4 separate regions of the Homo sapiens genome follow, and regions 1, 3 and 4 are each linked to region 2. The links come from fine-mapping of genetic effects on plasma protein levels. A gene starts in region 2. Each other region holds a variant in brackets. All regions are shown on one strand. Distances are from middle to middle. Region 1 overlaps LOC107985327 (a long non-coding RNA gene). Region 2 holds the start of CD33 (CD33 molecule). Region 3 holds the start of LOC101928517 (a long non-coding RNA gene). Region 4 holds the start of MIR8074 (microRNA 8074).

Region 1 (2,686 bases), 21 kb before region 2:
GATAGACACCTGACAATATCTGGAGTCCTTTTTTGGTTGTCAAAACTGGACTAGGGGAGCTACTGACATCTTGTGTGTACAACCTAGAGACGCTGCTCAACATCTGACCATGCACCCTTGTTCCTGGACCAAACCAAGGGTCAGGCTGCTTATTCTCTTAGCCCAATGACAAGATGCAGGTGAACTGGGAGAGAAGGGAGTTTATTTCTGTAACTGGGCACAGGGAGAAGATCTGGAAAATATTGCCAGACCAACTCAAAATTACAAAGTTTTCCAGAGCTCATATACCTTCTAAGCTATTTGTCTACATGTAAGAGTGCATTCATCTGGACGTAAGCGATTAACTTCTTCCAATCTGTAACTAAGATGTCAGTCCTGAAGATCTTCCTCTGTAGCCTCAGTAAATTTATTTAAACTAAATGGGTCCAGGTGCTGGGGTGATTACCCTTATCTTGTCTCCTGCTAAATCATGGAGGTTTGGGGAGTTCCTTCAGACCCCCAATAAACTTGTTTGTGGAGGCTTAGAGGAGTTTCTTCAGACCCCCCAATAAAACTTGTTTAATCCTAAACGGGTCCTGTTAAGAATTCCTTCATTATCTTGTTATGCTCAAGGCCCAGAAAAGGCCTGGGCAAAATTCTTGGTGGGCTTTTGTTACATTCCAGCCTTTGTATGAGGGCACTGGCTCTGTCAGCTTTTAATATTTAACTTAACCACTCAATCAGTGCTGAGACAGTTGTTATGGAGGCCTGCCTGTTCAGCGGTTAGGGAGACCTGACCTGCCACACCCTCCCCTAACCACCACCACCAAAGAATTATCCAGCCCCAAATGCCAGAATATGAATATCGTTGAGGTTGTGAGGCAGGATAAGTAAGGTTAGGAGGCCATACTCACTTGTATCCTTGCGCAAAGCCCCATGGATCCCTTTCGAAGCAGATTCTTTGGTTTTCACTCTCGTGAGTCAGCACCTAACTCTTGCAAGATAAACAGTCCTACAGGATACAAGCAGACCACCAGATGGTTGCAAGTTCCTGTTAATGTGGCCTGG[G/A]AAAGAGAACAAAAGCCACTTATTCATGGTGTAGTTTCCCCAGTCTCCAGCCAATCAACACCAAAAACCCAAGAAGCTGTGAGCTACAAATTCCTGCCTTGGGGGAGCTGGGAACTTCTCCAGGGCTCTGCGTGTGCAGCTATGTTCAAAGTTTAGCTTATAGTGACCTTTTCCTCATTTGAATAGTAGAAAATACACCCCTAGGTGGAGATTTTATATGCTAATGATACATGCAATGCGTGTTAGAGCACATAGATTCTGAGTGCATGCCTTTCATGCTGGACTCACCAATATTTTATGAATATGTATGTATAGTTCCCATGAAAGGAATTACCTTGAGATGCTAGAGGCTGTCTCTCCCTCCCTCTGCCTCTCAGGGTGTACTTTCGCTTTGTAATAAACTTCTTTGCCTACTCTTACTTTGGACTCGCTCTCAAATTCTTTTGTGCCGCAAAGTCAAGAACCTGAACTGGCCCACCAACAGCAGTTGATAAACTGCTCTAATCCAAGCTGTGGGAAAGTACAGGGGCTGGGAGAGGGGACAGGGTAGGGAATGCAGCTTGTCTGAGGAGGTGATGTTTGAACCAGCTCTCAAAGGATGAGTGTGTGCTGCAAAGAAGGAGGGCAGGGGACAATATTGCAAAGAGACAGAACCACATGAATGAAGCATGGAGAGGCACAGAGGGACATGCAATCTCTAGGATGTGGCTGAGATGTGTGAGGGGTGGTAGCTGAGGGTGAGATTGTAAAAAGTTATTTTTTGTTTTGTTTTGTTTTGTTTTTTGAGAAAGAGTCTTGCTCTGTCGCCCAGGCTGGAGTGCAGTGGTGCGATCTCAGCTCACTGCAACCCCTGCCTCCCGGGTTCAAGTGATTCTCCTGCCTCAGCCCCTCACGTAGCTGGGACTACAGGTGCATGCCACCACGCCTAGCTAATTTTTGTATTTTTAGTAAAGACGGAGTTTCACCATGTTGGCCAGACTGGTCTCAAACTGCTGACCTTATGATCTCCCTGCCTCAGCCTCCCAAAGTGCTGGGATTACAGGCGTGAGCCACCACACCAGGCCTTTTTTTTTTTTTTAGACAAGGTCTCACTTTGTTACCCAGGCTGGAGTGCAGTGGCGTGATCTAGCTCACTATAACCTTGAACGCCTGGCTCAGGGGATCCTCCCACCTCAGCCTCCCAAGTAGCTGGGACTATAAGTGCGTGCCACCACACCTGTCTAATTGTTCTTTGCTTTTGTAGAAACAGGGTCTCTCTATGTTGCTCAGGCTGGTGTTAACTCCTGGCCTCAAGCAATCCTCTTGCCTCAGCCTCCCAAAGTGCTGGGATTACAGGCATGAGCCACTGTTCCTGGCCTGGGAAAAGCTTGAATAACTCTCACTAGAGTCAGAACATCATCTTGAGGCAAAGAGGCAGGCATGGGAGGATATTTAGCAAGAAAGATACAGGGTTAGAGGTGAGTATTAGAAAGCTCCCATTGCTGATGGTTTTGGTGATGGGCTGGTTGGGGTGGGACTGGAGCCCAGAGGCTGGGGAGGAGGCTTTTGCCATGTTCTGGGGAAGAGGAGTCAAGATGGGACCTGGATCTGAGAGTAAGGGGAAGGGGACAGGCCAGGAACTTGGTGACTTACAGGAATG
Region 2 (2,686 bases):
CCTTCAGTTGGGGGTAGAGATGAGATAAGGGTAGGCATTTCCCCTTACTCCTGCCAGAAACCACAGAAATGCAGAAGGGACAGGGCTCATGTCCTTCTGGCTCCCGAACTCAGCCAGGCCTCCAGGACACTAAATGTCCCCAGCACCAGCCCATCCTGTCTCCCCTACACCCTCAGGGACCCCAGCATCCTGGCCCAGCACTTACAGGTGACGTTGAGCTGGATGGTTCTCTCCGTAGTCACACCAGCTCCAGCGAACTTCACCTGACAGGTCAGGTTGGTGCCGTGGTCCTGGGGCCGTGGGGTGATTATGAGCACCGAGGAGTGAGTAGTCCTGGGGCCCAGGGAGGTGGGGGCAGCTGACAACCAGGAGAAGATCGGGGGTGTTCCCTGCTCACAGGCCCAGGACACAGAGCAGGTCAGGTTTTTGGAGTGGCCGGGTTCTAGAGTGCCAGGGATGAGGATTTTGGGCCTGTGGGTCAAGTCTAGTGAGGAGAAAGAGGGGATGCAGAATCAGGAGGGAGGGTCCAGGTGAGGGCCTGAGAGAAGATCAACCTCTGGTCAAGCTCCCCCGCTAAGCACGACAGGCTTTACCCCTAAACCCCTCCCAGTACCAGGGTCCCATCCCAGCCCTGCCCTGCAGTACCCATGAACTTCCCTTGCGGCCACTTCTGAAGCCTGTGCCTCACCTGTCACATGCACAGAGAGCTGGGGAGATTTGTAACTGTATTTGGTACTTCCTCTCTCCATCCGAAAGAAGTATGAACCATTATCCCTCCTCCTGGCGTCTACGATGCTCAGGGAGCAGTTGTTCCTACTGGGATCCCCAAGGAGGCGGAATCTGCCCTGAGTCTCCTCCTGTACTTCTTGATCTAGCTTGTTTGTGGCCACTGGAGAGTCCCTGGATATAATGGCTCCTTCCCGGAACCAGTAACCATGAACTGGGGAGTTCTTGTCGTAGTAGGGTATGGGATGGAAGAAAGTGCAGGGCACGAGGACGCACAAACCCTCCTGTACCGTCACTGACTCCTGCACTTGCAGCCAGAAATTTGGATCCATAGCCAGGGCCCCTGTGGGGAAACGAGGGTCAGCTCGGCCCAGCCCGACAACCCCTCTCCCCACAGCCACTCACCTGCCCACAGCAGGGGCAGCAGTAGCAGCAGCGGCATGTCTGAGGAAGCAGCTTCCAGGGCTTCCTGTGTGAGCAGAAAAGAGGAAGGGAGTGGAGGGGAAGGACTACAGGGCCGGACAGGAAGCTGGGGAGGAGCAGGAGACCTCAGCCCTGCATGGAAGAGGAACCTCAGACCCACACATGCTCAGAGCTTGTCCCCTCCACACAGATTGACCCTCATGGGCCAGAGATGCCAGAGACCCGCCCAGAGATGGGAGGAGATGGAGCAGAATCTGAGTCTTGCCTTCCAGGAGCACCAGAGCCTGGATCAGTACCTTCAGGGCCATCTGAGACATGCGAACCCCATGTCTAAAGTCCTTCCACTCTGAGGTGCTTTTCTGTGCACAACTGTTTACACCAGGGCTGATCACTGCTGGCCTGGCCCGAGTCGCAGCCTCACCTAGATCCATGGGGTGTTTAGTCCAGCAGGATATAGGATTCTATAGGGTCCGTGTGAGTGTCTGGGGCAGAGAAACAAAGAAGAGTCCTAGGTAAAGTGAAGGTGGCAGCCATTCATTTATTCATTCATTCACTAAAGATATAGTGAGTGACAGAGCAGGAGCACCGTCATCTCGGAGAAACACTGCCTCTTTAAGTTCCAATTTCCTTTCTAGCCTCATGCATTTCAAGGAAATCACTTCTCTGCTAACTACAAGCAACCAGAAAGAGCAGACAGTGAAACACAGATAAGACAGCTCGGGCACAGAGGGAGGTAGGGGGAGAGTCTCTTGAGTTACTGCCAAACTTCACCCTCATACAATGGCCCTAGTAAAACAGTGGGCCTTAATAAGCAAATTCCTTTCCCTTCAGGTGCACTAAGATAGGGAAGCTAAAAGCAGACTCAGTGGGTATGCCTGTAGCTGCAGAAAGATGTATGGGTACAGACACACACCTCTCTCTCCCAGATAAGCACAACAAAGAGACTCAGAAGCAGTCCAAGTCTCTGATAAACTCTCCCACCCTAAATCCTTAAAAACTCTTAGTCTGTAAGAGAGTGTGCCTCTGACTTAACTCGGCCAGAAACTCCTCTCAGGTTTGTTTTCTCTAAAATCTGTCTTGACTGGTGAGCCACCATTCGTGTTTCTTTCCTCTTTCTTTAATTCTTACAGTGAGCCTTTGTGTATAGGTGGGGCTTGAGAAGAGATGCCACTGACCTGATTCCTGCCCTTAAGATACTCCCCATCCATAGCCTCATGTCCTCACCACACACACACATGCTGTCTGGCTTTAGAGCTGTGAAAAGTTGGGAATTTGCCATGTATCATGGTAGCATATTGGAAATTTTAAAAGAAATATGACTATAGAATTTTCCCCTGGCACCTAGTACACTGATTTGCACAGTGTCAATGACATCTCCAAAACAAGAACCATGCAGCATCTTCCTGTGAAACAAAAGGGAGAACACATGTTCTATGAACCAGTGCAGAAAAAACTTCTTTTCCATTCATGCTGCCATTTGGTTCAGTGTGGGCAGAAGCAAGTTTTTTTAGAGGCTCATCATATGGATCAACATTTT
Region 3 (2,686 bases), 43 kb after region 2:
GTGGGACACAGGGAGAAGATGCCACCCGCAAGCCACCGAGAGGCCTCAGAAGGAAGCAACGCTGACCACAGCTTGGTCTCAGACTTCCAGCCTCCAGAAGGGTGGGAAAACAAAGGCGTTGTTGAAGCCACTCGGTCTGTGTTCCTTTCTCAAGGCGGCCCTGGCAAGAGAGTCCATGGAGTGGTCGAGAGGATTCGATGTGTTCCTGTGAGCACAGCCCGGTGTGGACCGCGGTGGATGCAGAGCCCCACAGGGGTCTGGGACAGCCTGTAACATGGGATGCTCAGAGGATGGAAGGAGAAAAGGGAAGGGAAGGGCTCCTCACCAGAGGAAACCTGTGCTGCTGCCGCCCTGTCTCTGACATCTGCAGGGCTGCCCCCTCCACCCACACTCTCCCTCCCTCCCCAGGACCGGGCAGGGCTCTCAGCCGCAGCCCCTCGCTGCCCCTGCACCCTGGGCAGTTGCCTCCCATCTATGGGGCGGAGCCGCCTGGGCGTCTGGGCTGGGCGAGGCGGAGCCTGGAGGGGCACCGGCCACGGGCAGGGGAGACAGAGGCGGGCACAGCCTGGCGGGGTCCGGGCTGAGCCAGCGGGGAGGACGGGGCTGTGGGAGCCCAGCGGAGAGGGTGAGGATCCGCGGGCAGGTGGGACAGGTGAGCTGGGAGGTGAGAGATGGGCAGGGCTGCCTGAAAGGCAAGTTCATCCCAGAGCAGCGAGCAGGGCGCAGCCAAAGGCCGTGGGGGAAACAGCGGCGAGAAAAAAACGGCCAAAATTCTGCCCGCAGTGCGCCTGTATCCTAGCGGGGCGGCCACAAAAATATTGTTGAGTAGCAAGAAGTGTTTCGAAAGTGTGCAGTGGGTAAAGTGTGAGAAAATAAAGCAGATTTAATCAAGAGGAACGGAGTCCTCAGGGCTGGCTGGAGAGGAGCGTGGTTTCAAGAACGCGGTCAGGAAAGGACTCGCTGAGAAGAAATTTGGCGCCCAAACGTTCCTGGCACCGCCCGCGGCTGCTGATTGGCTCAAGCCCGTAGGATTCCTCTGGGCCTGAAGGTGCGGGGAGGGACTTGCACTTTCAGCTCCTGATTGGCTGTGCGTCAGCTCCCAGAGGCAAGTGTCCGTGGGGGAAAGCTCCATCTGCCTCGCAGATCTGCTGCGTAATAGGCACCTGAAGCTGCTGATTGGCTACTAAAGAGGCCTGTGCAGCCACTGATTGGCTGTGGGGTAGACGCACAACGTGCGAGGCGCGCGGGCTGGGCCCAGGGCGACAGCGGAGCCTTCACAC[C/G]GCTTTCTCCGCGCGCTGATGGAGGATTCCTGGCCTCACAGCAGTGCCTGGCCTGTGGGCGTCCCCGGCAGTCCTCGGCTGCGGGACCTGTATCGGGACTGCGCAAAGTGGGCTTCCAGGAGAGCAGGGCGTCCCTCAGTCAGCTGACCCCTTGGAGCGTGGGGCAGCCCAGGCCCGTGAGGCCGCCAGTGTCACCCTCAGGCCCGCGAGGCCCCCGAGCCCCTTGTGGGGTCCAAGGCCCATTCTGGATCAGTCACGAGGCAAGACCGCGGACCCTCAGGAGATCACCAGGAGCCCGCCGCGCATTCCTCCGCCTCCACCACGCCAGTCACCTGCTCAGCCCGAGGGCAGCCAGCGGCCGTCGCCCCAGTGAGGCGGCCGGTGAGGAGCTGAGGCCGTGACCAGGGCAGCGCCCCGCGAGTCAGCGTCAGTCCCCGCGCCAGCCAGTTCCTCAGACAATCAGGTAACGCGCCCCCACGGCCTGCCCTGGCCAGCAGTTAGCTGGGCTCCTGCCAGTCAGCCTCTTAGGAGGTCGTCCCCTGTAAGGCACTCAGTCGCTAGTCACACGGTTACCGCCTGTGTAGACCAGGTAATCGGGTTCACGCTGTGAGTCACTGGGCTCCCTGGCAACCCAGCCTTTATGTCAATCATCCATAAGCCAGTCAGTGATTGACTGCAGCCCCCCACCCCCACCCACACCCCCACCCACCCGTTGACCCCTTTGGCCTCAAACACGTTCCTCATCCTCTCTGCTCCAGGGTCCGAGGAAATCCAGGTTTGCACATCTTCACTGAACCTCCAACTCCATCTCCTCGTATACTATGTACATATATATGTATACACACACATATACTATGTACATATATATGTATACACACACATATACTATGTACATATATATGTATACACACACATATACTATGTACATATATATGTATACACACACATATACTATGTACATATATATGTATACACACACATATACTATGTACATATATATGTATACACACACATATACTATGTACATATATATGTATACACACACATATACTATGTACATATATATGTATACACACACATATACTATGTACATATATATGTATACATATATGTATACATATATATGATACTGCATGTAACACCTTGGACTCATCTTAAGAATTTCTGCTATTCCCATTTGGGTGATGGGAAGCCACTGAAGGGAGCAGAAAAGTGGATTTTTAGAATTTACTCTGTCTTCCCTGTGGAGAACAGATTGGAGGTGGGCAGGGAGCAGGTGAGAGGATAAGTTTCCTCACTGCATACTGAGGTCCCACTATGGAAAGTGAGTCCCTGAAGGCAAAGACGTACAACTTTCAAAAGCACTGTGGACTTGCTTTGCGCGCAGTAGGTGATAAATATGTGTT
Region 4 (2,686 bases), 18 kb after region 2:
GTGAGGATATAGTGAGAAGGCAGTCATCTGTGACCCAGGAGCGGGGACCTCACTAAGAACCCAGTTGTACTGACATCTTTATTTTGGTCTTCCAGCCTCCAGAACTATGAGAAATAGATGTTTGTTTTTTGTTTGTTTGTTTGTTTTTTGAGACAGAGTCTTGTTCTGTCACCCAGGCTGGAGTGCAGTGGCACGATCTTGGCTCACTGCAAGCTCCGCCTCCTGGGTTCACACCATTCTCCTGCCTCAGCCTCCCGAGTAGCTGGGACTACAGGAGTCCGCCACCACGCCCGGCTAATTTTTTATATTTTTAATAGAGACGGGGTTTCACCGTGTTAGCCAGGATGGTCTCGATCTCCTGACCTTGTGATCCACCCACCTTGGCCTCCCAAAGTTAGATGTTTGTTTTTTAAGCTAGCCGGTCTGTGATATCTCTTATTCTAGCCCAAACTGACTAAGGTAGCTTTGGTCTAGTTCTTTCTCCTTTTTTATTAGATGTATGAAGATCCAGTGTTAGAATTATGCTGACTTCCTGACATCCAAAGAAGCAAACACTGCTTTTTAAAAAGTTTCCCCAAATCACCTAACACAAGTCCAAATCCTATAATAAGCCAGTTATAATTCTCTCTTACTGAAACACCTCATGGTTTTCGTGGTTCCTCACTGCAATGAGTAATAACCCAACTACATATCTATTCCTGGTGCCTGCTGATCTCTGGCCAGAAGACACTGACATGTTTATTGACTTGGTCAATGTTGACATTTGTTTCCTTGAAGCTGTTCCAGGATTTGGATTTTATTAATGACTTTTTGTTCTACTGATGGCAGCTAGGGTTAGTGAGATGAGGTGGGTTCCCATCCCCTGCTCGCTGCTGACCTGAGGACTATGTCCCACTGTGTTTGGAAAGCATCAGCCCTGCCCTGTTTCCTTACTGTCCTCCAGTCCAGCCAGAAGAACATAGGCTGGGCGCAGTGGCTCATGCCTGTAATCCCAGCATTTTGAAGGGCCAAGGCAAGTGGATCACCTGAGGTCAGGAGTTCGAGGCCAGCCTGGCCAACATGGTGAAACCCCATCTCTACTAAAAATACAAAAATTAGCCAGGTGTGATGGTGGGTGCCTGTAGTCCCAGCTACTCAGGAGGCTGAGGCAAGGAGGATCGCTTGAACCTGGGAGGTGAAGATCGCTGTGACCAAGATCATGCCACTGCACTCCAACTGGGTGACAGAGTAAGACTCCATCTCAAAAAAAAAAAAAAAA[AC/C]ATAATAAGAACAGAATAGATTGGAATGCATGTTTTCATCTTTTCTAATTACTCTCTCTGCTGGACGTTTGCCTAATGACCTCATTTTCTGATTGGAAGCAGGAATGTCAGCCCTCTCTTAGGAGTATTTCATTGCAATCAACATAATTACACAGGAAACTGGTGTCCCTCTAAAGTGGAGACGTTTGGACAAGTTGTTCCATAAGTCACTTTTCAAGGTAAGATGGAACAACCAAGTTGAAGGAGGGATGGTAGCAGCTGCAATGAGGTGAATAGTTTTATAGTCAGGAAAGGGTCTCTATCACTACACTGTGTTTATTTCCTCTTAAGCCAGAATCAAGGTATCTTCTGAGAGTAGGGTGGTGGGAGGCAGCAGAGAATAGAAGAACCCAGTTCCTGAGTTTATGCAAGATGCCCATGGGAGCCCAGAGACGTCCTATGGCGAGACTGGCATGTACTCACACAACTGAAACCCTCTCAAGATAAGGGTCATTCTTTGACCAGAGAAAACAGCATCCTTCATGCCCTTCCATATTAATCTCTGCCTCCACATACAGTCTGAGAAGCAACCAGTGTTCTGACATTTGTCACCATCAACTAGTTTTACATGTTTTACAACTTCCTATAAATGGATTCACACAGTAAGCACTTGCTTCACCCTGAGCATCTCTGCTGTTTCTTTAAAATTTCAGTAATATTTGAAAATCAGAAAAGAATTTCTTCCATTTGCTAATTTAAAGTATAACATTCAGGCTGGGCCCGGTGTCTCACGTCTGTAATCCCAGCATTTCGGGAGGCCAAGGCAGACGGATCGCCTGAGCTCAGGAGTTCAAGACCAGCCTGGGCAACATGGTGAAACCCCATCTCTACTAAAAATACAAAAAACTAGCTGGGCATAGTGGTGGGTGCCTGTAATCTCAGCTACTCAGGAGATGGAGGCATGAGAATTGCTTGAATCCAGGAGGCGGAGGTTGCAGTGAGCTGAGATCGCACCGTTCTACTCTAGCCTGGGTGACAGAGTGAAACTCTGTCTCAAAAAAAAGAAAAAGTATAAAATTCAGTGGCATTTATTGCATTCACAGTGCTGTGTAATCATCACCACCATCTAGTTTCTGAACATTTTTATCACCCTGAAAGGGAAACAGTCACTTTCTATTGCCTGCTTCCCAGAGCCCCTGGAAACTACTAACGTGTACCTATTTCCATGGATTTATCTATGCTGGATATTTAATGTGAATGGAATAATTTCAGTCTTTCATCATTGAGTGTAATGTTACCTGTGGGTTTTCTCTAAATGGCCTACTAAGCTTGATGAGTTTCCATGTCTGGCTTCTTTTACCAAGGGTAATGTTTTCAAGGTAAATCCATGTTTACGAGGATAATCCTTGTTGTAGCATGCATCATTATTTCATTTCTTTTTTTGGACT

Evidence for each region. PIP is the posterior inclusion probability: the model's chance that the variant is causal. Sun 2018 read protein levels with aptamers (SomaScan).
Region 1: its variant is fine-mapped to the plasma level of the CD33 protein (Sun 2018, PIP 0.95).
Region 3: its variant is fine-mapped to the plasma level of the CD33 protein (Sun 2018, PIP 0.95).
Region 4: its variant is fine-mapped to the plasma level of the CD33 protein (Sun 2018, PIP 0.95).

Annotation. Positions count from the first base shown.
Region 1 is chr19:51,244,604-51,247,289 of GRCh38, reverse strand. All of the region lies in intron 2 of LOC107985327 (a long non-coding RNA gene), which reads left to right. It also overlaps a transcript of SIGLECL1 not described here. Among named protein-coding and RNA genes, the nearest start is that of SIGLECL1, 5.1 kb to the left of the region's middle. The variant G/A (reference allele first, on the strand shown) is at 1,048.
Region 2 is chr19:51,223,601-51,226,286 of GRCh38, reverse strand. It overlaps CD33 (CD33 molecule), which reads right to left and starts at 1,207. Exons shown (of 7, transcript NM_001772.4): 1 at 1,132-1,207; 2 at 689-1,069; 3 at 206-484. The coding sequence starts at 1,168. All of the region lies in intron 2 of LOC107985327 (a long non-coding RNA gene), which reads left to right.
Region 3 is chr19:51,180,531-51,183,216 of GRCh38, reverse strand. LOC101928517 (a long non-coding RNA gene) reads left to right here and starts at 1,251. Exons shown (of 5, transcript NR_110732.1): 1 at 1,251-1,743. RefSeq lists an enhancer at 1,029-2,000. The variant C/G (reference allele first, on the strand shown) is at 1,281.
Region 4 is chr19:51,205,972-51,208,657 of GRCh38, reverse strand. It overlaps MIR8074 (microRNA 8074), which reads left to right and starts at 1,649; the gene lies at 1,649-1,729. The region is part of intron 2 of LOC107985327 (a long non-coding RNA gene); the gene reads left to right. The variant AC/C (reference allele first, on the strand shown) is at 1,259.